4 separate regions of the Homo sapiens genome follow, and regions 2, 3 and 4 are each reported to be linked to region 1. Evidence: microRNA targets listed by miRTarBase, many of them from high-throughput screens and not tested one by one. Region 1 holds a microRNA gene; each other region holds the end of a gene's coding sequence.

The links. Region 1 holds the annotated microRNA hsa-miR-3612 (AGGAGGCAUCUUGAGAAAUGGA, at 3,250-3,271, shown strand). A microRNA usually pairs through its seed, bases 2 to 8, with sites in the 3' UTR of a target mRNA and lowers its output. Matches are read on the target gene's strand: a 7mer-m8 pairs with bases 2 to 8, a 7mer-A1 pairs with bases 2 to 7 and ends in A, and an 8mer does both.
Region 2: miRTarBase lists STMP1 as a target of hsa-miR-3612. Seed matches in the 3' UTR shown: 8mer at 821-828 and 7mer-m8 at 2,662-2,668.
Region 3: miRTarBase lists PNMA8B as a target of hsa-miR-3612. Seed matches in the 3' UTR shown: 7mer-m8 at 3,047-3,053, 7mer-A1 at 3,176-3,182 and 7mer-m8 at 3,238-3,244.
Region 4: miRTarBase lists OCIAD2 as a target of hsa-miR-3612. The part of its 3' UTR that is shown has no 7-base or 8-base seed match.

The regions. Positions count from the first base shown.
Region 1 is chr12:128,290,856-128,298,743 of GRCh38, forward strand. It overlaps MIR3612 (microRNA 3612), which reads left to right and starts at 3,237; the gene lies at 3,237-3,323. The region is part of intron 1 of TMEM132C (transmembrane protein 132C); the gene reads left to right.
Region 2 is chr7:135,673,349-135,681,236 of GRCh38, forward strand. STMP1 (short transmembrane mitochondrial protein 1) reads left to right here. Exons shown (of 3, transcript NM_001130929.2): 3 at 743-3,068. The coding sequence ends at 817. SLC13A4 (solute carrier family 13 member 4) reads right to left here. Exons shown (of 16, transcript NM_001318192.2): 16 at 7,883-7,888. Among named protein-coding and RNA genes, the nearest start is that of STMP1, 15 kb to the left of the region's middle.
Region 3 is chr19:46,486,779-46,494,666 of GRCh38, reverse strand. PNMA8B (PNMA family member 8B) reads left to right here. Exons shown (of 1, transcript NM_020709.3): 1 at 1-3,476. The coding sequence ends at 1,109. Among named protein-coding and RNA genes, the nearest start is that of PNMA8B, 5.1 kb to the left of the region's middle.
Region 4 is chr4:48,878,354-48,886,241 of GRCh38, reverse strand. OCIAD2 (OCIA domain containing 2) reads left to right here. Exons shown (of 7, transcript NM_001014446.3): 7 at 677-1,223. The coding sequence ends at 758. Among named protein-coding and RNA genes, the nearest start is that of OCIAD1-AS1, 22 kb to the right of the region's middle.

The sequences.
Region 1 (7,888 bases):
AAAAAAAGAAATAAGTGATTTCCCAATTTCATAATAGAAATGACTGAATATGCATTTTAATGCTAAACCCATTTCAGAATTCTGATGTATACATATCCCACCCCTCCCAGTTGAGAATTGCTGGTCCAAATGGAAGTTTACATCTTTTCCACAATGAAAGCCACTGAACTGGAGCGTGCTGTAGGTGAGTGCACCATCCTCCTGGTGAGGTGAGGTCCTGCAGCTCTTAGGCCTCTAAAGAGCTGGATGACCCGAGCAGCACAGGAATCCCCAAATTCTCGAGGGACATTCTTATGGTCTGAGCCAGCTGCAAGGCGATCCCAGAATTCCCCTGCAAGTACATCCAAGAAGAAATAAATATCTATAGAGGTGTTGCAAACCTCCCAGGAGTCATGACACAAATGAAGTCCTTTGAAGTCCAGTTCCCCTCTGGTGTAGGTACCGTTTTCACCCTATAGTGCAGAGTTTCTGTCCCCACACGCTAGATGCCAGCAGCATCCAGCCTCGCTGATGACAACCAAAACATCTCCATACAGTGCCAGGTGCCCTTTTCCCCTGGATGGGCTGATACTGAGGGGCTGAGCTGCCTGCAGCCCGCACCAACTGTGTGAATGCAGCCGACCTGCTGCGGGAGGAGATGATGCTGGGATTCCCAGAACAGCAGAAATAGGTGAAAGGGGGAGGAGAGTCTGGGAGGGATTGGGGTCCCTGGTTTAGCTTCCTGTTTTCCCAAGGCTCAGTTGTCCTGCTGTTCCCGTAACTCAGGGATATGCCCTGGAGCAATCCCACTCAATACCTGTGCTGGTTGAGTCCTGTGCTGGTTGAGTGCCTGCCTTTCCTTCCTCAGATCCATCCTGTTTCCCCTGCTCACTTCTGGATTATAGGGAACTGCACCTCCCAGGTTCCCTTGTTTTCTGGCTTCTGGACACATTCTAGTCCTGTCTGAGGCAGTGGCAGAAGACAGGAGGGAGATTGAAGTGGGGAAAGCCACAGTGCTTTTCTCCTTTTCTTGCTTTTCTTCCTGGACTGCCTGCAGTGATGGCCAGGGCGTCTCAGGAACCCCGGCTGACCGGAGGCAGCTTCTGCGCACTGTGTCCTGGTTTGCACCCTGCCCCACGGGTGGCCTTGGCCCCTGGAAACCCCCTGGGACCCATTGTTCCTCCTCCCCTAGGGCTGCGGGGTGCCCTCCTGTCGCTGGTATCTAGGTGTCTCACCATCCGTCTCTGCTTCATAACTCTTGCCTCACTACGTAATCAATTCCTATGTTTAAGCCCTTCTGTTCCAGTAACTACAGCATTTTGTTTTGTTTTGTTTTTCTGGCTGAATTCTGACAAAATATCACTTTTTTCTTATGCACATTCAAGTTTGCTTTCTGTTTCTTGCAGTCAAAAGAATCGTGGTCAAACAGAATGAAAGGCAAAACTTAGAGGAAAGCCTTGGAAACAAAGCCGGCCTCCCTGAGATTCCTGCTGTGTACAAGGGAGACAGGCCCACACTTCCCCACCTGAACCTGTTTTTGACAATCCCTGCCCAACTTCCTCACCCAGCAGTTGTAAGAAATGGGTTTGTCAATGGTTTTTTCTAACTTGTTCCAGTAGAATGTAAGCTCCTCGTGGGCATAGATTTTGTCTCTGTTGCCAGTACTGAAACCCTGGTACCTAGATGAGTGCTGGGCACACAGCAGGTACTTTGTAAATATCTATTAAGTGTACTTAGTACCTAGGTACCCTAGTACCTAGATGAGGTATTCATAAGTGTCTGTTAAGTGTACTTAGTACCTAGGTACCTAAGTTCCTAGATGAGGTATTCATAAGTGTCTGTTAAGTGTACTTAGTACCTAGGTACCTAAATTCCTAGATGAGGTACTTCATAAGTGTACTTAGTACCTAGGTACCCTAGTACCTAGATGAGGCACTTCATAAGTGTCTGTTAAGTGTACAATAAGAACTGTGGATCATGACACAGTGGAATTAACTTGATAGACTGTTGCTGTCAGCAGTTTTCTTTCATAAACAGAATAGCATAGAAATTCTATTCCTAATAGAGCACATTTCACATGGTAGGTCTGTGTTTTCTGTGTGTTGGTGTAGGTATGTGTATGTGTGTGTGTGTATATGCAAGCACGAGCACCAACTTGTGTTGTAAAATGTGATTCTTACAGTAGACCTTGATTTTCAAAAAATTTGAAAGCCGGACAGCAAGATAATAGTTCAGCTTTTTGTGAACGGTAAGGAGTGTGCAAATCTGAACCTGTAGTGTCTCCTGGATTGCTGTCAGTGAGGACAGAGGATCCTCTTTAAAAACTGGGTCCAAACTCCCTCTGGTCTCATTTTGCACCTCTCCACAGTATAAACTCTCCTTTCCAACCATTCCAAATAACTTAATTCCCTAATCTCAGGGGGCCGTTTCATTGCAGAAATTGCTGCTTGTTCACAAACTTAGTAAGGTACTTAAAAAAGATTTTGTCATGGTTAATAAAAGTCACAGGGTAAATTGGTCTTATTTCTTCTTTTTAGTGCAAAATGTAATCCCTTCACCCTGATTGTTTTGCTTAGTTGTACACACCACCCATCGGGAGGCCAGAAAACTTGTATTTATTTCTAGAGCTACCTCCTTACAGAATTTCAAAGAACCTCGGGGCACTTGAGAATTGGTGTCCAGACAGGATGAATCATTTCTTCTTCAATCAGGATTTTTTATTTTATTTTATTTTGCTGGGGGATAAAGATAAAGATGATTGAACTTGTTTTATTTAGGGGAAAAACAGCCTCTCTTTGAACTCTTGATCTCCACTTCTCAGGAGTGGAGCCCATTTGTAAACTCTCAGGTCTCTCATTGCCTTCTTTGTCTCCCAACCTCCTAAGGTCGAGAGTGATTCTTTATGGCAAAGAGTGAGCATTCTGGAGACTGCACAGCCTCCTCTGAACAAACTGGAGCATATATTTCCCGCATCGTCTCTGTCACCTCCCTGGGTTTTATTTTAATTGCCATGCTTTTCAAAAGCACAATTCCTATTAAATTATTCATGGTGGTATAATGTTTATGTGATCAGAGTAATTATTATAATTACGCATTGTGAATTTTCATAATTAATGACCTCACTCGGATTTCATTTGGTGCAGAATATTTCCGAAGGGGAATCAGGTGGTTGTGTCTGCTGGGGGAATCAGAATGGAATAAAATGGTGACCTATCTTGGGTTTTGCAGAGCAGTAGAAACTTCAGTCATTCACTTTGGGGACTGGGGATGAGGAGGCATCTTGAGAAATGGAAGGAATGGGATCTACTTCCAGTTCACTAGAGGCGTCCTGACACCCCTAGCTCAGCATCTTCCTCTGTGAACCGCCCATGGGAAGGTGTCCAAAGGTGTCCTAGTAGAACAAGCCTAGCAGACCAACAGGAGCAAGGAGACCAGACACGCGTCTCACTTTTGGGGCTTTTGAATGAGACTGGGGCTTACCAAATCTGCAGAAACCAGCCAACAATGCTCAACAGCAGCAAAACCACACTTCAGTGACTCACACAGCAAGGTGGCCCTAACAGGACTCAGGCTTCAGCTGACTTCCTCTCCCTCTCTAATTCTGGAAAGAGTAGAAAATGCAAGCCATTGGAGAAATGGCTGGTGGCACTCTGAGCATGGGAAGAAATTTGATATTTTATGATTGGCACCTGTCTTAGTCTGTTCTAGTTGCTCTAACAAAATACCAGAGACTGGGAAGCATCTAAACAACAGGAATTTGTTTCTTGCAGTTCCAGAGCCCAGAGATCCAAGATCAGGACACCAGCAGATTCACTATCTGGTGAGAGCCGGCTTCCTGGTTCATAGACAGGGCTTCTCCCTATGTCCTCTCACAGTGGAGGGGAGAGGAATCTCCCTAGACCCTTTTATAAGGGCCCTAATCCCATTCATGAGGCTCCACCCCCGTGACCTCATCACCTCCCAAAGGTACCACCTCCTAAGACCTCCATTCTGAAGAGGAGGATTTCAACACATGAATTTTCAAGGAACAAAGACGTTTAGAACACAGCCATTTTGTAGTCAGATTTCAAATATTTTAATGCCTCCATTTTCCTCATCTTTGACTTGTATCTGAGGAACCAATGCTTGGTGTGAGCCCTAAATAAATAAATAATAGATAGATAGATAGGTAGATAGATAAGAAGTTCAAGCTTCTTTGTCCCCCAGCAAAAAAAAAAAATTAAAAAATTGAGAAAGAAATGATTTATCCTGTTTCATCCTGTTTTGTATACAAATAGATGCCAGTACTCAAGTGCCCCAAGGTTCTTTGAAATTCTGTATGGAGCTAGCTCTAGAAATAAATTTATATTATGTTTGAGACAGGGTCTTGCTCTGTTGCCCAGGCTGGAGTGCAGTGGCACAATCACAACTCACCGCAGCCTCGAACTCCTGGCCTCAAGCAGTCCTCCTGCCTCAGTCTCCCAAAGTTATGGGATTACAAGTGTGAGTCAACACACCCAGTCCCAAAATAAATATTTGGTATAGCTATAGCTATTCACTAAGACCTTTCATCAGCATCATTCCCTCTCAGCCTCAGACCTACTTGAGGGGAAGGCAGTTCCATCCCCATTTTACAGATGAGAAAACTGAGACGTGTAGGGTCACATGGAAAATAAATAATGACCGCCTTGAAACTGTGATGTCCAGGGCGTCCTGTCTGTAACAGCCTGCTACCTTCCACCCCCTCCCCTGGGTATGCTTTCATTCCTTACCCGACTTCTTAGACTTGCCCTCCAATGTTACTGATGTGCCTTTTAAGTCCTTCAAAAAAAAAAAAAAAAAGAAAGAAAAAAGGGTGGGGTACAACCTGAAGAAAGAAGAAAAATAAGAGCCCCACATAAAATTCTGCTCAGTGATCAGAGACCAGTCCAGTCATAGATTTCAGTTTTAAGCACCAATTAAAAAAAAAAAACCTTAAAAATTTCTCCTATTTCCTTCTTGATCCTTGTAGAATATTGTACTTTTCAGACCATATTTAGTTGTACATTCCTCTGTCTTTCTCTCTGCTCTGTCATTTCTTGAAGACATGGGCCTTTCCTTATTACCTTCCATATCTTCAGGTTGTAATGGGATATTCAACACATAATAAGCAGTGAAATGCATCTTGCAAGAATGAGTGAACATTGGTTTTCTCTGTACCTCCCCTTGCCTCCCTTTCTTCCTAGTGTCCAAGTCCCTTTGTCTCTCTTTGTCCCCTATATTTACTGAAGTAGCACCCTTGTTTTGAGAGTATTTGTTGATTTGAGATGCAAAGCTTTTGGCCTGATGCCTGAACCCAGGAGACAGGACTCAGGGCCTATCCAGCATTGAGACCTGAGTTTCCCAATCATTGGAGGTTCACGTTTTATAATTAGGATGCTTTGGGCTGCAAGTAATAACAACACGAATACAGTCTGCCTTAAATGGTAAGGAAACATATTATCTTAAAAAGCAACTCCAGAAGTAGGGTGGTTTCCAGGTTAATTGATGCAGTGGCTTATTGCTCCCCTTAATGATCAAAGTCTTTCTGTCTCTCTAATGACATCCTGGCTTCACCCCAAGACTGGTTGTTCTCATGGTCACAGGAGAGATGACACTGGTATTTAGGGTACACAGTTTATATGTTTATGGCTAGAAGGAGTGGCCAGCTTTACAGAGGCTTCTCTCAAAAACAAAGGAGGGCCAGCCCAGCCATTAATTTCCTCTCTGTCTTTCCTCTCTGTCTTTCTGGTCATATTTAGAGCACAGAGCCATTCTGTAGCCAGTCACTAGAAAGGGAGCTGGATTCGCCTTAAAGGGATAGATAGAACAACACTTGGACCTGAGAATGGAAGTTGTCCTCCGTCAGGTTCATGACTGTGAGTGTCATGAGGAAGAAGATGGGGCAATAAAGTCAAGAGTAGGCAAGAAATTCATGTTTTCCTTTAAATTGATGCATTTCTTTAATTTAGCAAAACTATTTTTAAAACATCAGGGTTTGATATACTATAAGTGTTTTCTTCTAACCAGCATTAAAATAAATATATGATAATATAAATAAAAGATATTTATCTCTGTACCATTTTGGGAATTGCTAGATTTAGACTAGACTTCCCAAACTGCATATTTCACCAAAACACACCCCGTGATCTTTGGACAAAATAAATCCCAGGTTTTTATGGATGTAGGAAATACAGCTGTAATTCCGTCAAATGGTCTTTTTTTTTTCTTAATTGCAAAGTGCATATGTAAGTTTTCCCCTTTTTAAACTTTCATGATTCAATAGAAAGCAGCAAGGGTCTGTTTTTAGGGGCTGGACTGGCCATCTTTTCAGTTGGTGCTGGCTTGAAATGAAGAGCAACAAATAGAATAAATAACTGCAGTGAAGGGGATAATATGGTATTGACTGCTTGGCTCTGGTTAATTTTCTGTGCTGTGAACACCATGCAGAAGTTGGGCTGGACGTGATGGCCTCCTGCCGATAGGAGGCCAGTGGCTGTGAATATTGTACGTTTGTAAACTCAGAAGGGGTTTAGTGTGCAGCCAGATTCATTTAAAGTCATAAATGGATTATTGGATTACTCCTTGGTCATGCGTCTAAGTAATTTACGGGTGCTATCATGGCTCCGGGTCTCTAATAAGCTTCGCCCTCCTTGGGATAGTGACTGTCTTGCCTTAACTGATGTTGAATCTTTCCCACTTAGTCTCTCCTGCTTAGGGTTAACATTTAACCAAGGCCTGCAAAAGCTGGCTTTGAAGGCACTCGACTTGAACTGAGAAGGTCTGACTTTAATTCTGACCCTTCACCCCCAAATCTTTTCAGAGAGTGTAGCAGTGTCTCCTGGTGGGCACAGTTCTTTTCCTTTTTCCAGGATTTGGTATCTCTTCTGAACTTTTTCCTTCTGACACCCACATGATTTTAAGCAAAAACTCTATAATTTTTCAAAAAAAAGTTAAAACCCAATCATTTACCTCCTTAGAGACCCCAAGCACTGAAAATAAATTATGGGGCCCTGCTCAACCTGTCTACAATTCACAATTAAAATAGTACTTAGCCATAAAGCAAATGGAAGAAAACCCAACAAAATATTTGTTTTCTCATGATGATGACTTCAATATCAAATGATTTACAAAAATATTCCCTCCTTCATGTTAGTTTCCCTGTTTTGCTTTTGTTTGGTGTGACAGCCTGTGGGGTAATCTCACCCCGCCTTTAGCTATGAATGTAGCTTTAAAGGTTACAAAGCATTTTCCTCTTTTTATCCCATTTTATCTCCTCTCCTTCTGCCCAGTACAGGTTCAGGATGTTGCCAGAGAGCACCTGTGAGAATGCACATCTAATCATGTTATTCCCTTGCTTAAGACCCCAGTGCGGCTCCCATTGTTCCAGAAACTAACCCATGACCCTCTGTGGTGGAGCTCCCCAGGCTCTCCAGCCTCAGGTTCTCCCGCCCTCTCCTCCCCCGGGCCATGTGCATTGTGTTTTGTTGAATGTGTTCCTTCCGAAAGGGCAACTGGTACAGCGCAAAATGTTCTTCCTACAGGGCAATTGTTATGTTGATTTTTTTGTCTGTTTATTTGTTTTAACTTTTTTTTTTAAATAGAGACTCACAGGAAGTTGCATAAAATAGTACAGAGAGCCCCAAGTCCCCTTCACCCAGCTCTCCCTGGTGATTGCATCTCACGTAACTACGGTACGTACGACTCACAGCCAGGAAACCAGCATCGGCAGGTGCCTGCATAATTCTTTGCCATTGCATCCTGTGGGTAACTGCCTGCAGCCACTGCTCTGAAGACACTAAACTGTGCCATCAGAGCCTCCCTCCTGCTACCTCTGTATCCTCACAGGAAGACATTTCTTTGGGGGAAGAAAACGAACTTTGCAGATGAGGCTGGAGTTGTCTTTGATCCA
Region 2 (7,888 bases), not on the chromosome of region 1:
AATGGGGATTCTGGACAGGAGTTTGAAAAAGACAAGCAAGGGAAACATGATACTAACTTGATTTGTTATAAAGCTTTTCATATGACAAAGGGAATTCCTTTGTCAACCTTCGTTTGAGTCATACAGTTTTCTAGGCAAAGGCTACATTATGTCACATTTATTGTTTATATGTACAACCTTTACTTGGCACCAGATCGAGCGGAAGTGGGTATACAAAAGTAGAAGTGGGTTTCAGAGAAGGAGCATACTTATCTGACAACTTCTGATATCTTTCACATGCAGTTATAAGGCTAAGAAATACCACTATTGGCCGGGTGCAGTGGCTCACGCCTGTAATCCTAGCACTTTGGGAGGCCGAGGTGGGCAGATTGCTCAAGCTCAGGAGTTCGAGACCAGCCTGGGCAGTGTGACGAAAGCCCATCTTTACAAAAAATACAAAAATTAGCCAGGGGTGGTGGCATGTCCGTGGTCCCAACTACTTGCGGGATTGTGGCGGGAAGGATCACTTGAGCTCTGGAGGTCAAGGCTGCAGTGAGCTGTGTTTGCACCATTGCCCTCCAGCCTGAGTGACAGAGTGAAACCCTATCTTAAAAAAGAAAGCAAAAAGAAATAACCACTATTTAGCAGATCTCTTTTGGAGGAAGATAAAAGCTTGTAAAACCATTTATCTTTGGAGGAAGAGAAGTACAAGAATATTGATTAGGTAGATGCAAAATTATAATAACCTTTTTTCTCTTCAAAGATACCAAACCTGGCTAAAAAACTTGAAGAAATTAAAAAGGACTTGGATGCCAAGAAGAAACCCCCTAGTGCATGAGACTGCCTCCAGCACTGCCTTCAGGATATACTGATTCTACTGCTCTTGAGGGCCTCGTTTACTATCTGAACCAAAAGCTTTTGTTTTCGTCTCCAGCCTCAGCACTTCTCTTCTTTGCTAGACCCTGTGTTTTTTGCTTTAAAGCAAGCAAAATGGGGCCCCAATTTGAGAACTACCCGACATTTCCAACATACTCACCTCTTCCCATAATCCCTTTCCAACTGCATGGGAGGTTCTAAGACTGGAATTATGGTGCTAGATTAGTAAACATGACTTTTAATGAGTAGTGTCTTCTTTATCGTTTGCGATTTTTACTACCTTTTTTCAAAAGAAAAATTGATGAGTTTTGTATAGCTGGTCAGATACAAATAATAGTGACTTCACAGTTTAGTAATTATAATGGGTACTTGTTAAACATTTGGTACTAAATTATGTTGCTGCAAAGTAATTAAAATTAGTATCTAGAGCTAGTTTCTGGTGAATTATTCATTTATTTTGTACTGTTGTTAGGCAGCTCTGTAGTTGCTAATTTAACCAATAAGTCAATTTGCTATTCATGAAGAAACGATTCTGAGAATCCTGTCAGGAATTGGGGAATGAAAAAATACACAAAATAATGGTCTTTGTCCCAGTAGAGTTCATAGTCTATTTAGTGTGCATGTTTTTCCTTAATGATGTATTTGATCTGACTTTTTTCCTTCTCAAAAGAATCATACTTGGGATTACAGGTACATTTGATGTTATATGATGGATAAGTGAAAAGTTTTTAAAGGAGATTTTATACCTTTTCACATTAAAAAAGGTATTTATATTATTACTTTGTAGTGATTGTCTTAAGAAAAAATATAGCCCAAATGTATAGTAAAATCAGCAGCTCAAGAAGAATTTCTGCTTCTCTTTGTAGTTGATGCTTTGTTTTTTCCTGCAGTCAGAAATTCCTTGTATTTGTCAAATGTATAATCAGCTTGTATTGTTTTTAAATTAAAAAAAAATTTGAATAATTAACTTTTGCCATGGGACAAGATACAAAAGTAATTTCATATAAAGGGCCTCTCCCACCCCTGTTCTCTGGCTCCTGGCTCCTGTTTGACAAGTTACTGTTACCACTTCGCCTTATACTTTTGAGAAAGAGTCTGTGCCTAAACAAACACGTGTAACACAAATAGTAACTATACATGGAGGTCTAGCCCTCGCCTTTTTTTTTTCTTTTTTTCTTTTTTAATGGAGATCATTCTATACCAGCATGTAAGTAGCAAGGAACCTCATTCTTTTTTTGGCTGCCTAAAATTTTTTTGAATAGATATAACATAATTGATTTAATCTGCTACTGGTGAATGCTTAGGTTGTTCTTTTGCTATTACAGTGATAACTTCAATCCTAATGTTATTAAGCATATCGATTCAGGGTATAGCTATAAGATGAAGTCCTAAAAGTATAATTTAGACTAAATACAAATACCCATTTCGCTAGCTGTTTTGTTTCAGAGGACTTGTTGAGCAGCTTCACTAATAATGCCATTTTTGAAGACATGGCAGGTTCAGAATCAATAAACTGGAAGAATTGTTCAGAGCATCTTTTTTCAGACAGTGATGACATTGATTCTGTATATGATAAAGTGATTCTGCTTCTCTTTGACAACTTGCATCTCTCCTACATGGAAGTAAGTTTTATTCCTGTCAATGTTGTCTTTGTGTGTGACAGATTAGGATTAAATTATGGTTTGACTTTTCCTAGCAGCGTGATCATGGGCAAGTGGCTTTTTTTTTTTTTTTTTTTTGAGACAGAGTCTCACTCTGCTGCCCAGGCTGGAGTGCAGTGGCACAGTCTTGGCTCACTGCAACTCCTGCCTCCCGGTCCAAGTGATTCTCGTGCTGCAGCTTCTCAAGTAGCTGGCATCACCACCACACCTGGCTAATTTTTGTATTTTTAGTAACGACGAGGTTTCACCATGTTGGCAAAGCTGGTCTCAAATTCCTGGCCTCAAGTGATCTGCCCACTTCAGCCTCCCAAAGTGTTGGGATTACAGGCGTGAGCCACTGCGCCCAGCTTTTTTAAACTTTTAGATTCATTTAATAGGTAAATTGCATGTCACGGGTTTGTAGCTTATTCTTTCAGAAACTCTTGCATTATCTGTAGACGTGGACGTAAATATCCACCTCATAGGGTTTTCATAAAAAATAATTGAGATAATGTATGTAATGTTTCACAGTGCTTTGCAGACTATCTAATAAATAGTAGCTATTAGTACAAACTTGTTGCTTTTTGGCTAGTTCTGCAGTCACTTTTGGAATCAGTTTATGAACCACACAAAAAGTTTGTCATTATTCTGTAGTCGCTGTTTTTGATACTGATGAAAATTTACAGTATCCACCTGGATTGTACCATCTGGCTCACAAGATTTGATCTTGAATTGTTAGCACAATGAACTACAGCCTCAAAGGATGAAAGTTTACCTTGCGGGTATTAAAAATGCTAGAAGCTTAGAAAGCTGTTTCCAAAGAGGGATTCCTTGTTACCAACCATGATAGCATTGCTGTGGTGTGTGTGGTCTCCCAGAGTGGCTGCTTTGGGATTGGAGGTCACTTAGCTATTAGAAGGATAGGTCTCTTTATATTATACCTTGTAAACAAGGCTCATTTGGACTTAGGGCTTCCTTTAGAGGTGACACTTAACCTTGGCAAGGGGATCATTTCTACCAGTGGGATCCATCTAGCAGATCAGTTCTTAAATTCGGCTTCATCATGTAAACTGCTACACAGTGCAGGCTGACTTTGCATTCACCATTCAGATACCCTCTCCTAGTTTTATGTTCTTGGCAGCAGTGAAAAGGACCTCAGAGTTCTCAGGCAAGATGATCTTCACTGAGCTATATGTTGGAGGAGCCCAGAACCATCATAGTTTTAGGGTGTAGTTGAAAATCCTTACTGTGAATGGGGTTTATGGCACTGAAAGTTACCCCTTCCCTGGGAATTTTGTAGGAACCCTTGCCACACAGATCAATGGAGTGGTGGGAAGAAGCACCACAAGACAGGCCTTTTTTTTTTCCTTTAAAAAATGTTTGAAAGCTCCTACTAATATGGTTAGGAAAACTTCTGCCACATCTGACCATAAAATGAGAGTTGCTCAAAATACTAGTGCAGATTACTCTGACATGTGAAATACAAGACTTCAGGATTGATGCTAGAAAAATACAGTGAACTTGAAAAGCTTATCCCTAAACTGTAATCCTCCCAAACAAAACAAAAACAAAGCAAGAAAAAAAGCCTTATTTAAAATTGTCAAAAGAGGCTGAATTTTATGAAGTTACCAAAAGTATATCTTTAGACTTTTCTTCTGATTTGGTATTTTATGTATTTAAGCAGTTACCTGATTCTGATTTAAAGGAGCAATTTTATTTCTCTTTTTCTAACTCATTTACCCAATGAGTTTGTGTGACTATAGAGAAAAGTAGGCTGTGTGGTTTTTCTAGTTGTCTATACACATTGCCTCATAGAGCATATGTACCCATGGTACACATGTGTAATGTTTTCATTTCCACTAACCCGTTCACTCCCTAGATACTATGCTGGTGTTTTTCTGCTGAGGTCTCCCACATTTTTAATGCCTTTTCTGAGTTATTCCTCCTGAAGGAACGTTATATACTGTACTGGAGCAAATGAGGCTTTTCTTAAACTTCCAGTCTTGGGTTTTGCATGTAGCATTTCCATTCCTTACAGATGAATGAGTTCTTTTTTCCCTATTGACTATTAGGGCTTCGCCTTGCGGAAAGGAATAGGGTGGTGAAGGGAAAATATTTTGAGATCTTGCCTGCTCTTAATAGGGAGTTTGTGACACTTAGATTTTCAAGTGTTCATTTTATACCTTTCCCAAATCTGGTTGCAGTGTATTTAGTCAAGCATTGAAGACCTAACATATGGCATGTTTTGCAAGGCACAGGGAAAGAAAAATGAACTGAGAACAGTGAGACCTTGTGGAAGTTCCCAGGGTGGGACGTTGAAACCCTGGGTCCTGGGCCTTCCTGAATCACAGCCTCGGTGGGAGGATTTTATGAAAGGTACAGTGCAGTTGCATCATCTTACACAGTTGTACAGGACTGGGACCAAAAAAGGTGCCATGTAAATAGTGCATGCAATTGTGTTCAGTGTTCGTTCAGTGAGGACAGCCCCACTGAGCTACCTGTGTACTCAGGTGGTCTCGGTTCCCTTTGCGTTCTAATGGTTTGAGTTTCTTGCTGTATTGAGAGTGATTCTAGTGTTTAGAGACTTTTTCAAACATCACGGTCTCCAGATGTGAAGCCAACTACCTCATTTATTGTATGGTTGAACAAACAGATTTGTTCTGATGTTGGAAGGAAAACTAGCTGCTTTTGATTTGTTAAAAGATGGTACATGAGTGTTTGTGATATGTAAATACTAATGTGAAAGATTGTATACCATGTACTTAATGTCTGACTTAGTGGAATTTCAAAGGCAACTTTGACTAAGCAAATTTGATAAAGAATTGGTTTAAGAATAAGATGCAACTATACTTAGTGACTTTGGCTCACAGTTTCATCATCCATAAAATATTAGAAGATAAAATTAAATTATATTTGCAAGAGACACAAGACTATTAAGGAGGGCTAGAAGTTATCCAACAGTGGAGTGATTTAGATGACAAGGAGTTATTAATCATATTTGCCATTTCCTGTCACTGGAATGGGTAACCTTGCTTGGCTTGAATCTCCAGTTCTGGGAAAGAACAGTGCTGTGCTTGAGAGCAGTTTAGTAGACCAGACTGAAATAAACGCTCTTTCTAAATTGGCTAGTTGAATGCATTCACTACTCGGAACACCTGGCAGCAGTTGCTGGCACAGCTTTCCCTTCAGGAGTGAGTCAGGTTCTCACATAGTTGAATACTGGCCAGTAATTCTAAGTCCACTTAATTCTAAATCAACTTTTCTTTCTCTTTTTACTTATACTCCCAGAATCTTACAGATTGCACCTTTGTCCTATTGTCTGACTTAGGGGCAAAGGATCTGTGTTCTGTGATGGTTCATAAATGTGATGTTTGGCTGCTCTGATAATAAGAGTAATACCCTGACTCTTGAAAATTTAAAGCAAATGACTTTAGAGATGTTGGCTGGATCAAATCAGCTGTAGCGTACCTAACATTGGTATTTCATTTGGGCTTGTGAGGTCTTAACTATTATATTGGACAAATAATTTTGGTCTAACTCACAGGGCAGAAGCACTGATGTTCCCATTAACCATGGTCAGTCACATTCTGTGGTTGAAGCACATGTTTGTGGTGGTTTCTTTTGCTCCAAAAGAAATTTTACAACTCACAGATGCTTGATCAATTAAGGGAGTGATTTTATAGATAAATTATTGTGGGAAAACAGCACGTGCTATCAGTAGTAACTTAAAATCACTTAAAACAGTGCAGTAATTGTAGGGGACTCCCTTTCCCCTAAGATATATTTAGCAAACAACTGATGGGAGAAATAAAAAATATGTAACACTAACAAACTAGAGGGATTGAGAGCTATCTCCAGTCATGTAGCAAGGATATCTATCATGGAGAAAACGGCATGGTCTTCAGGAGGAGAAAGAAGCCTTGATTTCCAGACAGTTGTTTTCTCATGGGACACGTTTATTGAGCATTTACAGCTTACCACATTGTAGAAGTTGCTGGGGGATTTCAAGAGCCATAGACAGCTCTTCTCCCTCAAGGGGCTCATGTAGGGATGTGTAGGAAGTGACAGATGTGTTTGGACCTTTGGCTACTACCTAATACTTTGTTTTCTCAGGAACAAACTACTTATTAAATCCAGAAGCAAGCCAGTCTAATATAATAATAATGCTGTGGTCTTAATTATAGTTTTGGTTTCCCTTATAAGACACATAGGAAAGTTTTCCCTCCCTCCCAAAACTTAACCAAGGCAATAGTATTTCTGGTTAGTGACAGGTGGAGAGAGAGATGTTAATCTCAATGTATCTTCTTTCTTGACTTCCCTTTCCTTTTGAGACGGAGCCTCGCTCTGTCGCCCAGGCTGGAGTGCAGTGGTGCGATCTCAGCTCACTGCAACCTCTGCCTCCTGGGTTCAAGCGATTCTTCTGCCTCAGCCTCCTGAGTAGCTGGGATTACAGGCGTGCACCACCACGCCCGGCTAATTTTTGTATTTTTAGTAGAGTCGGGGTTTCACTCTACTAAAACCCTGTTGGTCAGGCTGGCCTCGAACTCCTGACCTCATGGTCCGCTTGCCTCAGCCTCCCAAAGTGCTGGGATTATAGGCGTGAGCCACCGCGCCCGGCCGACTTCCCTTTCCTTTGACTAATAGAACAACACCAGCCTCTTTCTGAAAGGGAACACTATATGGGAATTTGGTGCCAAGGTAAAGGGGAGCCATTGAGGAGAGATGCTTAAAAGGGAATGAAAGTGGTGATGAAAGAGTACTAATTGCCATGAGGAAGACCTACTAAGAATGCCTTCTTGTGGAGAGAACTTAGGATAGAAGCACTTAAGAGAAAGGAGCTGATGGCCGGGCGTGGTGGCTCACACCTGTAATCCCAGCACTTTGGGAGGCTGAGGCAGGTGGATCACCTGAGGTCAGGAGTTGGAGACCAGCCTGGCCAACATGGTGAAACCCCATCTCTACTAAAAATACAGAAAACCAGCTGGGCGTTGTGGCACATGCCTGTAGTCCCAGCTACTCAGGAGGTTGAGACAGTAGAATCGCTTGAACCTGGGAGTGGAGGTTGCAGTGAGCTGAGATCGTGTCACTGCACTCCAGCCTGGGCAACAGAACGAGACTCCATCTCAAAAAAAAAAAAAAAAAAAAAGAGAGAGAGAGAAAGGAGCTGACATTAGGTTTCGAGGTCTGGGTGAGGTTTCCCACAAAAAAGATGTCACTGGTTTCACTCTGCCTTGGTAGGATGACTTGGGTATCTTTCTACTCCTAAGAAGGTATTAAGAATAACATAAAACCTAGTGAGTTTGCAAGGCTTAGCCTCCGAAGGGTGACTAAGACAGGCTTTCTTTTCCTGTCTTCAGAATGAATGGATTACAAAGACTAGATACAACTTTAGG
Region 3 (7,888 bases), not on the chromosome of region 1:
AGGCAGAGAAGGAGCCAGCTGGGGCCGAATCCATCCGCTTGAACACCAAAGAAGACAAAAATGGTGTCCCCGACTTAGTGGCCCTGCTGGCTGTGAGAGACACCCCGGACGAGGAGCCGGTGGACAGCGACACTTCGGAGAGCGACTCGCAGGAAAGTGGGGACCAAGAAACAGAGGAGTTGGATAATCCTGAGTTCGTGGCCATTGTGGCCTATACCGACCCGTCGGACCCCTGGGCCCGGGAGGAGATGTTGAAAATCGCTTCTGTTATCGAGTCGCTGGGCTGGAGCGACGAGAAAGACAAGCGAGACCCCCTCCGACAGGTCTTGTCCGTCATGTCCAAGGACACTAACGGGACCCGCGTGAAGGTGGAAGAGGCGGGCCGCGAGGTGGACGCCGTGGTCCTGCGCAAGGCCGGGGATGACGGGGACCTCCGGGAGTGCATTTCCACCTTGGCGCAGCCGGATCTCCCTCCCCAGGCGAAGAAGGCTGGGCGTGGCCTCTTCGGGGGCTGGAGCGAGCACCGTGAGGACGAAGGGGGTCTTCTGGAGCTGGTGGCGCTCCTGGCTGCCCAGGACATGGCGGAGGTGATGAAGGAGGAAAAAGAAAACGCCTGGGAAGGCGGGAAGTACAAATACCCCAAAGGCAAACTGGGGGAGGTATTGGCGCTCCTGGCCGCCCGGGAGAACATGGGGTCCAACGAGGGGTCGGAGGAGGCTTCGGACGAACAGTCCGAGGAGGAGTCGGAGGACACCGAGAGCGAGGCGTCGGAGCCGGAGGACAGGGCATCCAGGAAGCCCCGGGCCAAGAGGGCGCGCACGGCCCCCAGGGGCCTGACTCCGGCCGGCGCGCCTCCCACCGCTTCCGGGGCCCGCAAAACCCGCGCGGGCGGCCGAGGCCGAGGCCGGGGCGTCACTCCCGAGAAGAAAGCCGGGAGCCGGGGCTCGGCCCAGGACGACGCCGCAGGAAGCAGGAAGAAGAAGGGGAGCGCGGGCGCCGGGGCCCATGCCAGGGCAGGCGAGGCCAAGGGCCAGGCGCCCACTGGATCCAAGGCCGCGCGCGGGAAGAAGGCCCGTCGGGGCCGGAGGCTGCCCCCTAAATGCCGCTAGTGGCCCCCCAAGAAGCCGCCCAGGCTGCGAGCAGGCCCCGCAGGGCACCCGCCCGCCTGTGGCCCCCGCCCTCCCCTCCCCTCTTCCTGTCCTCCGCAGACGCAATCTCCTCGCTTCACAGCGCGCCCGGGCCGCGTTTTGCCAGCGTCACGTTCCCCTCTCGGGCCCTCGCAGGCCGGGGGCGCCAGCGATCCCGACGGAGGAAGCCCGGATGGGAGGAGGAAAGAGAAGTGGGCGCCCGAGGCAGCAGCGCAGGGCCGAGATGGGGACGCGCCAAGTGGACCAGGATTGGGGGCCCGGGTTGCCCCCGGAGGGGGTGTGTGTGTGGACGCCGGGCACCTGCAGAGGCGAGCAGGGCTCTTCGTGGCGCTCTCGGGGCCTGCGCCTGGCAGGTGCTGTAGGCCGCTGTCGCCCCTACCCCAGTCTGACTGGGCCCTGGGTCTGTGGTGGAGGCTCAGTCACCAGCCGCGCAGCGCGTGTCAGGGCGCAACTCTCAGCCAGGGGAGGCCCCAGCTCCCAGCCAGGGGAAGAGATGATTCCAGAAAGGAAAGTCTGAGAGATAGAAGGCGGTTGGGAAGGGGAGGAGGAGGAAAGGGGAGAGGAACGGTGGGAGAAGGGAAAGAGGAGGAGGAGGGGGAGGGGGGAGCAGAGGGAAGACACATGCCAGCCCTGCCTACTGGGGCGCCCCTGATAACAAAGGAACCAGCCCCAGGCCAAGGCCACCTGCCCCTGACCACAAGTTGAATTTGTCACTCAGACTGCAGTGTTTCCCAACATTCTAATTATTTGCAGAGGTGTTCAATTTGGGGTAATTCACTTAAAATCCAGTTTTGGTTCTTCTGGGCTGAGTGGGCCCTGGCCCCTCCCATAGGCTGTGGCTCCCCTGGGTGCCCCCTCTCCAGTGGAGCTGACCCACCGCTCAGCGCTGGCCTTGCAGCCCTTACTAAAAGACTTGAAAGTCCCTGGGTTCACCCCCTGAGTGAATTAAAGGCCAGAGGGGCCCCGAAGGGCACTGTGAGGGACAGAGGCTCACCTGGGCAGTGCAGAAGCCGGCCGCGTGTCCCTCCTTACAGGGGATGAAATGACCTGGGGAGGAAACCCCAGCCCTGCCCTGGAGGTTCCAGAGTAGGCGGGCCGGTGCTGTGAGGCTTCACAACCTGCTGTCCCAAGCACGCTTGAGTTGTATGTGAGTCTGTGCCGTGCCGTGCCGTATGCTTCAGCTCCTGCAACCCCGGCTGAGCTCGATTTTTACCTAAATATCAGTCTCCACGGGACCCCACCTTCATTCATGCCTTCTTGTCCCTGGGGCAATGTGTGTGCTTCCTCGTCCCAATTTCCATTCCCTGGCAGTGAGGAGCCCATCGTGCCAGGGGGCCCTGCCCCACTTGTCCCTGGGAAGGAATAGGAGGGTTTGGGTGTGACCTCACAGTCCAGACCAGACTGTCCCAGTCCTATGTCAGGGACACCCAGATGTAGAAGCTGACTGAGACCTGCTGCAGGGCGTGGGTGCTCCCCTCTGCTTGGAGGCTGTCCCTGGACAGTGACCCACCCACTGAGGACCAGGCTGGGTGTACCTTGAGCTGGGCACAGCAGCCTGTGGTGTTGCCTGTGGGTGGGGAGGGCCCCAGGTGTGCTTCTCCCGTAGCAGTCCTAGGCTTCTCTCCCTGTGCCCTGTGTCACCTGGATCCTCCAGTAAAGTGAAATTCAGCACTGTACTCTCTCTGTGCTCTGGGCAGTGGGGCAGGCGGGGTGTGGGAGCGTGGGCCACAGATGTCCACGGTCTTGACTGTGGTTTGCCCAGAATACCTGGGAACTGTCCTGTCACTGGTTTACATACACTGTCCTTTGCTGCTTCGGGATCCCTGCCTGGCTCTCCCTACCCCCCAGCATCATCTCACCCCTTGCAGATCTGAGCCAGCTTCCACTCCCACCCCTGATGCCTCCCCACTTCCAGCCTCAGCTCCGAAGCCCCTGGACACCCATGGAGACCCCGCCCAGCCAATCCCCACCCTAGCTTCCACCCAGATACACTCTGCCAGGCCACAGCTGCAGGCACTCTCCCCCCAGCCTCCACCCCTCACCTGTGCCCTGGACCTCAGACTCAGCTTTCCATCCTACCTGAGTTTTCTGCCTCCCTCCATCCTGTGTCCCCCCACCATACATGGCTGCCAGAGACGTCCTCTTAGAAGTCACACCTGGGGTCTGATTGCGTCCCTCGCCTCCCCAGATCCCCCAAGGTCTCCTTCCTGTGCCGTCATATCTGCAGTTCTTAGGACTGTCTAGACATGCTTTGTTCAACTAGGTAATCACACGGGGTAAATTGGATTTAAATGTAATTAAGATTAAATAAAAATACACATGCATGTCCTCAGTCTTCCCAGCCACGTCACAAGTGCTCAAGAGCCACACGTGGCCAGTGGCTACCGCATTGCACGGTGCTGGTGCAGGACATGGCCATCGCATGCAGCTCTCCCTCGCAGCTCAGGTCTACACACTCCACCCCCATCTCACCCTCTGCCTTGTTTCCCACTGCCCTCTCTGTGTCTCCTGTGGCTTCAGCCACCCAGGTCTCTGGGACACACCAGGCATATTCCTGCCTCATGGCCTTTGCACTGCTCTTCCTGCAGCCTGGAGTGCCCTTCCTTGGGCTATAGGCGTGGCTCCAACCTTCATGTCACTCAGACCTTTCTTCAAATGCCACATTCCTAGGGAGGGCTTCCCTGACCACCTATAAAAATGTAACTCTTTGTGGCCGGCCAGGCACGGTGGCTCATGCCTGTAATCCCAGCACTTTGGGAGGCCGAGGAGGGTGGATCACGAGGGCAGGAGTTCAAGACCAGCCTGGCCAAGACGGTGAAACCCCGTCTCTACTAAAAATATAAAAATTAGTCTGGTGTGGTGGTGCACACCTGTAATCCCAGCTACTTGGGAGGCTGAGGCAGAAGAATCGCTTGAACCTGGGAGGCAGAGGTTGCAGTGAGCTGAGATCGTGCCACTGCACTCCAGCCTGGGTGACAGAGCAAGACTCCGTCTCAAAAAAAAAAAAAAAAAAGGAACCCTTTCTGCACTTCCTCCCTTTATTTTTCAGAGCTATGACTGCCCCCTGGCACACCGACTGTACTTGTCAGGGAGGTTAATAGAGGAAATTGGTGACTGGGGTATTGCAATCAGGAAGTGCAAAAACAGGGAGATCGTTTTGTCCCAATATTAGCAATGCAGGGAGCTGCTCCCTCCCGAGGGCTGGAGGAGCCACTTGGGAAAGGCTGGTGATCAGAGCCCTAGTGTAGGACTGCCAAGTTCCACGCACGGGGCCGGCTTGCTTGAGGAGAGACCCGGGAGCCCCTGGTTCACCGCAGTGACCGCCAGCTGCTGCTGCCACCACGGCCTGAGCATTCCCCCAAATGGCGTCCCTTTCCTCCTGCTTTCAAACTCCCCCCAGCGCCCCGTGGGCTTGCAGCAGCAGCAGCCCCTGCAGAGGGCCCTGAGCGGTGGCTGTGGGGACCTATGCGGCATGGGGGCAGGTGGGCGTGGCGGGGAGAGGCGCGGCAGAGCGGCTTAGGGCCAGCTCCGTAGGGAAAAAGTGTGGCTTGGCCTTTCCCCTTCGTGTCCCCAGCCCCAACACCGTGCCTGGCACGCGGCGGCGGCTGTTATTTGTTGAATGACTGACGGTCGGAATGAACCACGCGGACTGGGTGAGTCAGATCCCAGATAGGCCTGGTGGGGAATGTGCTGGAAAGAAACATTGTTTTCATTCCCTCATTCCTGGAGGGAGTGCTCCGGCGGGGATGGGGAGGAGTGTTTGGGGTCGAAGGAGCAGCCGCGTAAAGGCCTTGAGATCCTGCAGGGAAGGGTCCCGGTGCACAGAGACCAGCACAGGCTGCAGCAGCCGGGTCTGTCCCGCGCGTGGAGCCTCTGGCGACGGGTGGAGCGGAGCGCGGTTGCCCCCTCCTGGGAGAGAAGGCGACTGTCTGGGAGGAGCCCTCAGCGCCATCCGCGCAGTCCATGAGATTTATCCAGGGCTGGCGCGTCCCAGGCCCTGTTCTTGGTGCAGGAAACAGGACCCTCCCGCAGGGAGCATGCGGTGGGGAGGCTGGGGTTACGCTCCCTAGATGAGGACGAAATCCATGCATTAGGGGGTGAGACCTGCTGGGGGACAAAAGTCCGGCAAGCAGGGGGCCCGAGGAGGGCCGGGGCAGGAGAGGGTTTGCAGTCGTCATAAACGGGCCTGGGAAAGTGGCCTGGGAAGCCCTCACTGAGAAGGTGACAAGTGTAGTGGCGCGATCACGGCTCACTGCAGCCTCGAATTCCTGGGCTCAAGCGATCCTCCCACCACTTCAGCCTCCCTCTAGAGTAGCTGGGACCACAGGCACGCGCCACCAAGCCTAGCTACTTTTTGCATTTTTTGTAGAGACGGGGTCTCTGAATGTTGCAAAGACCCGAAGGACGTGCGGCCGGCGGTTGCCTGGGGGAAGTCCATGACCGGGGTGTAGGAAGAGCCAGGGCAAAAGCTTCCCAAGCCAAGGGTATGACTGTAGGGGGTTATTAGCGTGTAATTACTGCCCCTCCCATGCCAGGCTAAGTGCTGGTGGAGTGGAGGCAGTGACGCCAAAGAAGGCCGCCTGCCTCCATGGTGGTCGCTGTCTGGCTGGATTTTCACCTGAGGCAGCAAATGAGCATGAAGAGGTCCCTGGAGTAGGGCGTGCAGACTGGCAGGGCCTCAGGGCCTCGTTAAGCGCTGGGGAGCCATGGGAGGGATTTGAACAGGAGAGGGAGAGGTTTATGCTTTAGGTCTGTCGTGTGCAGGGTGCAAGGCTGGAGCAGGAGGAGGCTGGGGCGGGAACCTAGGGGACAGGCCTAAGGCTGGACCGGCGCAGGGTGGTGGGGATGGCAGGAAGTGGTTGAAGAGTTTTCAGGAGCCTGATTTCAGCTGACCAGGTGACTGGCGGGCTGAGGTTGTGTGTGTATGTGTTTGTGTCTCTGTGTGGATCTGGGGGTGGACACATTCGAATGTATATGTCTGTGCGTCTTTATTGGCTCTGTAGAGAGGAGGGCAGGATGAAGGAGGGAAGAGGATGAAGGCAGATTTTCACCCTCATTTCCCAGATAGAGAAACCGAGGCTCAGAGAGGCAAGGAAGGGAGCTGGAACCCACGTTTGTCTTACTCTACGGCTCCCTCGAATAATCGGCCCTCCCGGCCCCAGGGGAGGGACGGAATGGTCCTCCCCCAAGGATGAGGCCAAGGTATCCTGGGGTCCAGACCCCAGACCCTCCCTCACCTCTTCCCTCTCCCCCCTCCCCCGCCACCTCCCCACCGCGAAGAATCCCGGGGTCCAGACCCTTTCCCCTAGAGGCTGAACTTGTCTTGGCCCCTCGGCCTGCTTAAGCGGGAAATGAGCGATCCCCAAACTCTGGGAATGTGGCCACGTCCTAGAACTGCGCCGCAGACGACGACCCTTCCCTTTGCCCCCGCAACCTACGACTCCAGAGCAGGGGAAGAATCCGCGCGAGTTGCGATGCCCGCTGATTCCACCAGGAGGCACCCCAGTTCCGCCGTTTAAAATCGTGGGGCCACGGCGCTTTCCCCAGCGCTTTAAAGGGACAACCCTCCCTGGTCTTTGAACGCCAGGCTGGGGAAAGCGGACTTTCCTGCAGGACAGCGGTTCTCAAAATCAGGTCCTGGACCTGCGTCAACGTCTCCTGGGAACTAGATACACATTCTCGGGCCCACCCTAGACCTACAGAACCCCTTTGGGGGTGAGGTCCAGCAAGCTGCATTTTCAAAGGACCCCCAGGTGCCTGCGATGCGGGACTAGTTTGAGAACCACGGCTGTGGCGTCTGATGGTCTCTAGGACCCCTAGGGTCGCGGTTGTGAGCCCCGGCTGCCCATTGCTTGGAATCACCGGGGAGCTTTAGGGACTGTTGCTGCCCCAGCCGTGCCCTGCACCATTCAGAGATTCCGAGAGCGGCTGCCGAGATCTGCAGGCTGGACATGGGCTCTGGGTCATTCCAGGGGCAGCCGGGGTGGGCACCGCTGCCCTGGGGTCCCTGTCAGGGCTGAGGTGTGCAGTGAAGAGCTGGCCGCCGCTGATACGTAGCAGAAATAAGACGAGATGACCTCACAAACACATCACACCCTCTTCAGTCCCCTGGGCAGTGCTGGCAGGAAAGCTCTGCTGTGATCCCCATTTCCCATGAGGATGTGGAGGCACTGAGAGGTCAAGTAATCAGCCCAAGGTCACACAGCTTGCAAGGGGCAATGCTGGGGGAGTCAGGCAGCGGGGCTCCAAACCCCTCCTCCCATCTCTAACCATTTCCTCTTCTCTTGTCACACCCAGTGAGCCTGGGAGGGGGACCCAGAAAGCCCCCCTCCCCCAACCCCTATCTCAGGGTAGCATCTCTTCCCTTCATGTCTGTGTTCTGGAATCACCTGTGGCCTCTCATTTTTCTCTTTAGTGACAGTGAGGGGTGGCTGGACTGGTCCAGATGAAGGCTGATTTGGAGTCAAATCTCTGGTTTTCTGGGGCGTTTGAAACCATACCCCAGAGGCATCAACTGGCTACCTCAGGGGAACTGGCCCTGCAGGCTCCATTTGAAACCCCCTTGATTTGAAAATATTGACGCCTCTGTTCGCATCTCATCTCAAGTTACCCAAGGGCTCCTTGCACCCCTGGGGCCTCACTGGATGTCACACTGAAGATGCTGGGAATGGAACGCAGAAAATAGTATGTCCACTCAAGGGGGAAACAGAGACTCTAGTGGGAGACAGATTTGCCCAAAG
Region 4 (7,888 bases), not on the chromosome of region 1:
ACATCTACAACCATCTGATCTTTGACAAACCTGACAAAAACAAGAAATAAGGAAAGGATTCCCTATTTAATAAATGGTGCTGGGAAAACTGGCTAGCCATATGTAGAAAGCTGAAACTGGATCCCTTTCTTACACCTTATACAAAAATTAATTCAAGATGGATTAATGACTTAAATGTTAGACCTAAAACCATAAAAATCCTAGAAGAAAACCTAGGCAATACCATTCAGGACATAGGCATGGGCAAGGACTTCATGTCTAAAACACCAAAAGCGATGGTAACAAAGGCCGAAATTGACAAATGGGATGTTATTAAGCTAAAGAGCTTCTGCACAGCAAAAGAAACTACCTTCAGAGTGAACAGGCAACCTACAGAATGGGAGAATACTCCTATTATTTCTGAAAAAACAAGGCTAGTGAACTTTAGCATAGACTATATTTCTAATATTGTGTTAAAGCCAGGTGCAGTGGTTCATGCCTGTAGTCTCAGCTACTCAAGAGGGTTGGGTGGGAGGATCCCTTGAGCCCTCGAGACCAGCCTGGGCAACATAGATAGACTCCCCCCACATCTCTATTAAAAAGATTATGTTAAAATAATAAGAATAATATGTTATGTAAAGACTAGGGCTTCCAGTGTCAAAGTACAAACCGCTGTCTATTTTTGCTTCTCTTCTAGGCACTGCCTCCTTACCTGTGAGGAATGCAAAATAAAGCATGGATTAAGTGAGAAGGGAGACTCTCAGCCTTCAGCTTCCTAAATTCTGTGTCTGTGACTTTCGAAGTTTTTTAAACCTCTGAATTTGTACACATTTAAAATTTCAAGTGTACTTTAAAATAAAATACTTCTAATGGAACAAAAACATTGTGTCTGTCACTCACTGAAATGTATTCCGTGGAAGGCTTTCAAGTGAACTAAGCGTTACATGTTTTTCTGCTCTTTAAGAACATGTCGGGGCATGGCGCAGTGGCTCATGCCTGTAATCCCAGTACTTTGGGAGGCCGAGGCAGGCAGATCATTTGAGGTCAGGAGTTCATGACCAGCTTGGCCAACATGGTGAAACCCCATCTCTGCTAAAAATATAAAAATTAGCCAGGCGTGGTGGCACATGCCTGTAATCCCAGCTACTGAGAGGGAGGCTGAGGCAGGAGAATCACTTGAACCCAGGAGGCGAAAGTTGCAGCGAGCAGAGATTGTGCCACTGCACTCCAGCCTGGGTGCCAGAGCTAGACTCCATCACACACACACACACACACACACACACACACACACACACACACACACACAACATGTTAGGAATCCTCACACACACACAAATGACATTGCACCCCCACCCCAACTTGCTTACAGCTAAATAAGAGAATTAAGTCTTCTCAGATTAGCCTCTATTCTTTCTTTTACTCTGCTTTTTTTTTCAGTGTTTTAAGTTATCTGATAGAGAATTGGAATTAATGTTGAAGAAGTTAGGAAGTCATGACCCCAAGAAAATTAATGTGTATGGAGATAGAAACAGGACAAGACTGACTTACAGGTATGAGAAGGGCTTCCTAAAATGTAGGGGCAACATTTTTAACTTAGTGAAAAGTGTTTTGTTGGAAAGGGTCAAAATATGAATCAACTATCCTTTCAGTGCTCCAGGTGACCTTATGGTTCAACAGTATGGTTCAACAGTGGAGTTTTGGAAGTGACCATTGTCTTTTTTTGTTTTTGTTTTTGTTTTTGTTTTGGTTTTTGTTTTGGTTTTTGTTTTGGTTTTTGTTTTTGTTTTGAGACAGGGTCTTGCTCTGTCACCCAGACTGGAGTGCAATGGCATGATCATAGCTCACTGCAGCTTCGACCTCCCAGGTTCAAGCCACCCTCCCACCTCACCCTCCCAAGTAGCTGGGATTACAGGTGTGTGCCATCATGCCCACTATTTTTGTAGTTTTTGTAGAGGGGGGGTTTTGCCATGTTTCCCAGACTGGTGTTGAACTCCTGAGCTCAAGCAATCCACCTACCTCTGCCTCCCAAAGTGCTAGAATTATAGGTGTGAGCCACCATGCCTGGCCTCTTTGTCTTTAGGTTATCTGCTTAGCAAATGGGCACATGCTTATGGGCAGCCCTCAAGAATGGGGTTCTTTCATATACTACTAGTGGCCTGAAACAAGAAACACAACTTCCCAAATTGTCTCTCATTTTCCCCAAGGAACAACTTATTTATGGGAGGAATCACTGGAATAATTAATACATGGAATGATAAATTTAGAATTCTAGGGAGTTCAGAGGCAGCCAATGCAACTCCAGGGGTTGGACTCCTATTCTCCTGTCAGATTTGTTGCATGAAAACAACAATAACAAAATCTGGCCAAGTGCAGTGGCTCACACCTGTAATCCTAACACTTTGGGAGGCCAAGGCGGGCAGATCACTGGAGGAGTTTGAGACCAGCCTGGCCAACATGGTAAAATGCTGTCTCTACTAAAAATACAAAAATTAATCGGGCATGGTGGTGCATGCCTGTAATCCCAGCTACTGGGGAGACTGAGGCACGAGAATCTCTTGAATTGGAGAGGTGGAGGTTGCAGTGAGCCAAGATAGTGCCACTGCACTCCACTCTGGGCAACAGAGTGAGACTCTGTCTAAAAAAAAAAAAAAAAATTAAGAAAGAAAGGAAAAAAAAAGAAACCCTTCCATGTGGGAACCTTTTGTTTTATGTATGACAGGTTGTCTGAGCCCTACAGAAAAACTACTCTTGCATCTTTGCAACTTCTCAGAAGAATGCTTTATATATGTATCATCATTTATATCAATATATAGGCAAGGTGCAGTGGCTCACACCTGTAATCCCAGCACTTTGGGAGGCTAAGGTAGGTAGATCACTTGAGGTCAGGAGTTTGAGACCAGCCTGGCCAATATGATGAAACCCCACCTCTACTAAAAATGCAAAAATAGCCCGGTGTGGTGGCACATGCCTGTAGTCGCAGGTACTCAGGAGGCTAAGGCAGGAGAATTGCTTGAACCCGGGAGATGGAAGTTGCAGCGAGCAGAGATTGTGCCACTGCACTCCAGCCTGGGTGACAGAGCGAGACTCTATCTCAAAAAAAAAATATATATATATATAGATAGATAGATAGATGATAGATAGATAGATAGATAGATACATAGATAGATACATAGATAGATAGATATATAAGAGGTTTGTGTATGTACACATTTGGGTTTTACTTAATACATCTTGAACATGTATCATGGAAGTTAAAAGAGAAACTTCATTAAAAGTTAATCGTTTACATGAAATATTTTATTTTAAACATCAAATTATACAGAAGTTTTAATTTTTACATGAACATTAAGAGTAAGCCTCTTTTTATATTACGTATGCTATTTTTTCAGTCCATAAAGTTTTATTTCTGTAAATCAGAATGCAAAGCCAATATCCTATCATCTTAAATGCAAGTTTAACTCTTGTCTCTGATAACTAGCAGTTGGTGACTCTTTGTTATCTCAGCTATTGGCAAAAATTCAGAATTGGGCACATTTATTTCCTACTCCCCAGAAAATGATTTCCTAGGGATCAGAACATTTCACATTGCTTAGCACAGCAAGTCAATGTAAAAAATCTATCCCAAGGTACTGGGGAAAGATACATTTATTTTATTTATTTTTATTTTTATTTTTATTTTTTTTTTATTTTTTTGAGACGGAGTCTTGCTCTGTCACCCAGGCTGGAGTGCAGTGGTGCGATCTCGGCCAACTGCCTCCCGGGTTCATGCCATTCTCCTACCTCAGCCTCTTAAGTAACTGGGACTATAGTCACCCGCCCCCAAGCCTGGCTAAGTTTTTGTATTTTTAGTAGAGATGGGGTTTCACCGTATTAGCCAGGATAGTCTCCATCTCCTGACCTCGTGATCCACCTGCCTCAGCCTCCCAAAGTGCTGGGCCACTGGGGTGAGCCACTGCACCTGGCCAATACATTTATTATTGTTGAAAGGAGCATTGTTTTTACAGATGACATCTTCATAGTTCTTCTCAATCAAATTGGGTTTATTGCTTGGGCTTTCTACATTTCCTACGTAGAGAAGTTATTCATTGAAGCAGTTTATCATGACGATCTATCTTAGAGTGAAAGAAAATCAATAAGGAAAAAACTGGAAGTTCATCCAAGAGGCTTTGATTATTCTGCTGCTATTTTTTTGGGTTTCTTGTTCGTTTGTTTTGTTTTGTTTTGCTTGTCTGTCGCCCAGGTGGACTTCAGTGGCACAATCTTGACTCACTGCAACCTCTGCCTCCCAGGTTCAAGTGATTCTCCTGTCTCAGACTCCTCAGTAGCTGAGATTACAGGCATGCACCACCACGGCTGGCTAAATTTTTGGCATTTTTAGTGGAGACAAGGTTTCACCATGTTGGCCAGGCTGGTCTCAAACTCCTGACCTCAAGGGTTCCACCTGCCTCAGCCTCCCAAAGTGCTAGGATTACAGGCATGAGGCACCGCACCCAGCTGCCTATCTATTGTACATATTAGAAAGCTAGTACCTGGGGGAGAATGTCTGTTTCTTGTGTTAAAGGAACAGCACCTGCCTTTTGACATTTCACCATTACCAACACTCATCACAAAGCTGGTCACAAGCTTATGAAAGCAGTACCTTCATGATAAAAAAAAAAAAAGAAAAAAACTTGGAAAAGAACAGCAAGATAAAATCGTAGATAGACTCACGTGAAAGAAAGAACTGATGAGACTACACGGTAGTAAAAGTTGGATGTCTAACCAATTTTATTGGCAAACTTTCCCTAGGATGATATGGACTGATATTCTACAGTGACGAGAATGCAAACCTTCCCATTATTTTGAATTTGATTAATGGAATTTAAAATGTAACATTAGTTTGTCCACGGATGCACCTGTAAGAAGAGACAAACTTGATATCTGAAATCAGCAAACCTTGTCTAACACATTTGTAGTTCCTCTAGACAACATAATAAAATGTTTTTAACAGCGGGTAATGACACTAATGAAAATAAGGAAGATCCTTACTCGACCAGAAAAGATCAAAATGATTTCCTTAATTCCATGCACCTCCATGGCACTCCAGTGATGCCTAGAAGTGTGTTTCTTTCTTGGCTTACATACAAGTGGATGACTAGAAAGGATGCTTTCAAGATATTTTTAGTTTCAAAGGCATTAACCAAACATTCCACCATTAGCTATGGTGATCATTTGTTCTAAATTTTGCCTCAGTTTGTGTGATCCTGGAGTTCAAAAGTTATTACTATAAACTGTATTCTAATGAAATGTATGTTTTATAATTTAAAAAATAGTGGAATAATCCTTTTGTGTTTGTTTCTCTTATTAAAATAGATCAGTTTCCAGAAAGACTCATATGTTATAGATATTATACTGTATATTATTACATATATAAATATGTAGCATATAATATACTGTATATAATGCTTATTATATATTTTAAAATTCTCATTTAAACAAAGATATTCTCTTCCTTTGCTGTCAGAATGGTTTGTCTAGTTTAACATTATGAAAGTAATAAAAATGTATCTTGCGTGATTTGATTAAGTAATAGCAATAAAAATGTATCTTGAATGATTTGATTAAGTAATGAAATGTAATGCAAATGTTGTGTAGGCAATTTTCTTGATATTCAAACAATGCAAACTGTTAATTGACAGAAAACCTCTCCATTTTGGAACTCTGCTCCCAAATTTCAACTATAAAATTCAGTTTTGTAGACACTTGGAGTTGGCAGAGATTTCAGTGATTAACTCAGAGGCTGCAAAGAACAGGACCAGACGGACAATGTAATTGAGTGAAGCTGAGCTAGTGGCATATTAAACAAAGGTGTATTCTTCACTTCCGTACACAAAAATAGATAAGCCCACTGTTGCCAAATCTTCCACTTGTTCAATATTCAGTGCAAGCAAATGCAGGTTTTTATGTGAAATCTCCCGGTTTTAAAATATTCACATTCTTTCATATATTTAAATATTGAGCACTCATTCTGTACTAGGAACTGTCCTAGGTCCTAGGAATATAGCAGTGAATACAACCAACAAAAATCTCATCCTCCTGGAGCTTATATTCTCATCACCAGTTCTTGGCTTGGGATCCAATCCAACCCCAACCCCGCCCCCCCACAACCGGCAGCACTCACTGTGGAAGTCTCCTCCGTACTGTCCCAGGAGGTGAGATTTCAGGACCCCCCACATACATACTTCCGAGGGAAGGACACCTACTGCTCAACAATGCAGCCCAGTACACTGCCCAGCTGTTAAATTCTTCAGAAAGTCTTATGGGGAGCCCAAGTTTGCTTCCCTCCTGTTCTAAACTGGAAATTCCTCCAAGATAGACAGTGTACTCATTTTTTCTTATCTCTGAATCCTCAAGCAGCATACTTGCAGAGATGGGCATTTCATAAATGCTTTTCAGCTTAAACCTGTAATTTGCCGGTGGCTACAAAATACAATTCTCATTCCTCTTTTACAAAATAGCATTGAAATACTGGAAAGCATGCTTCCTGGAATTTGGCTAAAGGGCCCTAGTTTTATTTACCATTGGAGTGGGTTTCCAACCCTGTCACAACCTGGTCTTGGGATAGCTTTCGGCCTGTGGTGTCCTCATACACAAAAACTCCAAAAATGGATTGACCAGTTCAGAAAAGGGCAGGATTATTATAATTTTTGCTTTAGGGACCGGAACTGTTAGCAAGAGAGGCTCTGCATCAGGCCCTGTGCTTCAAATCCAGGCTTCACCACTTACTATCTACTTGACTTTGGGTTATTATTTATCTGCTCCAGGACTCAGTTTCCTCATCTGTAAAATGGAAATAATATTAGACTTACCTGATAGGTTTCTCAAGAGAATTAAATGGGCTGATACTTACAAATTACTTAGAATAGTGCCTGGCTCAGAGTAACCACTCAATGGATGTTAGTTATTACTACTACTACTATTACTGAAATTTAAGAATACATAATTAGATTGCATAGTAGATTGTTACTGGCCCTAATTATTAATACTTACCTCTCCTATACCCATGCCTTTTGTCATGCAATTTTGCATTACCTTCCTACTGTGAACAGGGGCATATTTACCTATCTTCTTGACCTTCAGCTTGTGGATATGACTTTAGGCAAAATATAAGCCCAAAATGAAGGTGTGCTGAAGTTCCAAATTTAGGCTTAAAGAGGCCTTTTCTGTTTCCATTTCTGTCTCTATCATGGCCATAAGAAAAACATGCCCAATACTAGATACAAAAGCAATAGCCTGAATGCTGATCCATCAGCTGTTGCCTAAGGTCTAATCCCTGTAATAAATCCCTTACTCTATATCATTGATAGCAGTTCTGCTTTTCTATAAAATCTTAATTAAAAAATGTGGTAGGAGGGCAGAGCAAGACGGCGAATAGAAGGCTCCACTGATCATCCTCTCATCACAGGAACACCAAATGTAATAACTATCTACACAAAAAAAGCATCTTCATAAGAACCAAAAATCAGGTGAGCACTCATAATACCTAGTTTTAACTTCATATCGCTGAAAGAGGCACTGAAGAAAGATGAAAGATAGTCTTGAATTGCCATTGCCACCCCTCTCCTATACCCCTGAACCATCTGCATGGCACAGAGAGAAAATCTGTGTGCTTGGGAGAGGGAGAGCACAACTGTGAGACTTTGCATTAAACTCAGAGCTGCTCTGTCACAGCGGGAATTGACTGAACTCAGCTGATGCCTGCCCATGGAGGTAGCACTTAGACCATCCCTAGTCAGAAGGGAATCATCCAAACAAGCAGAGTTCCAGCAAGCCTTCCCACCATGGGCTGAAGTGCTCTGAACCCCTAAGTAAACTTGAAAGACAGGGTAGGCCACAAGGACTGCAACTCCAAGGCAAGTCTTAGTGCTAG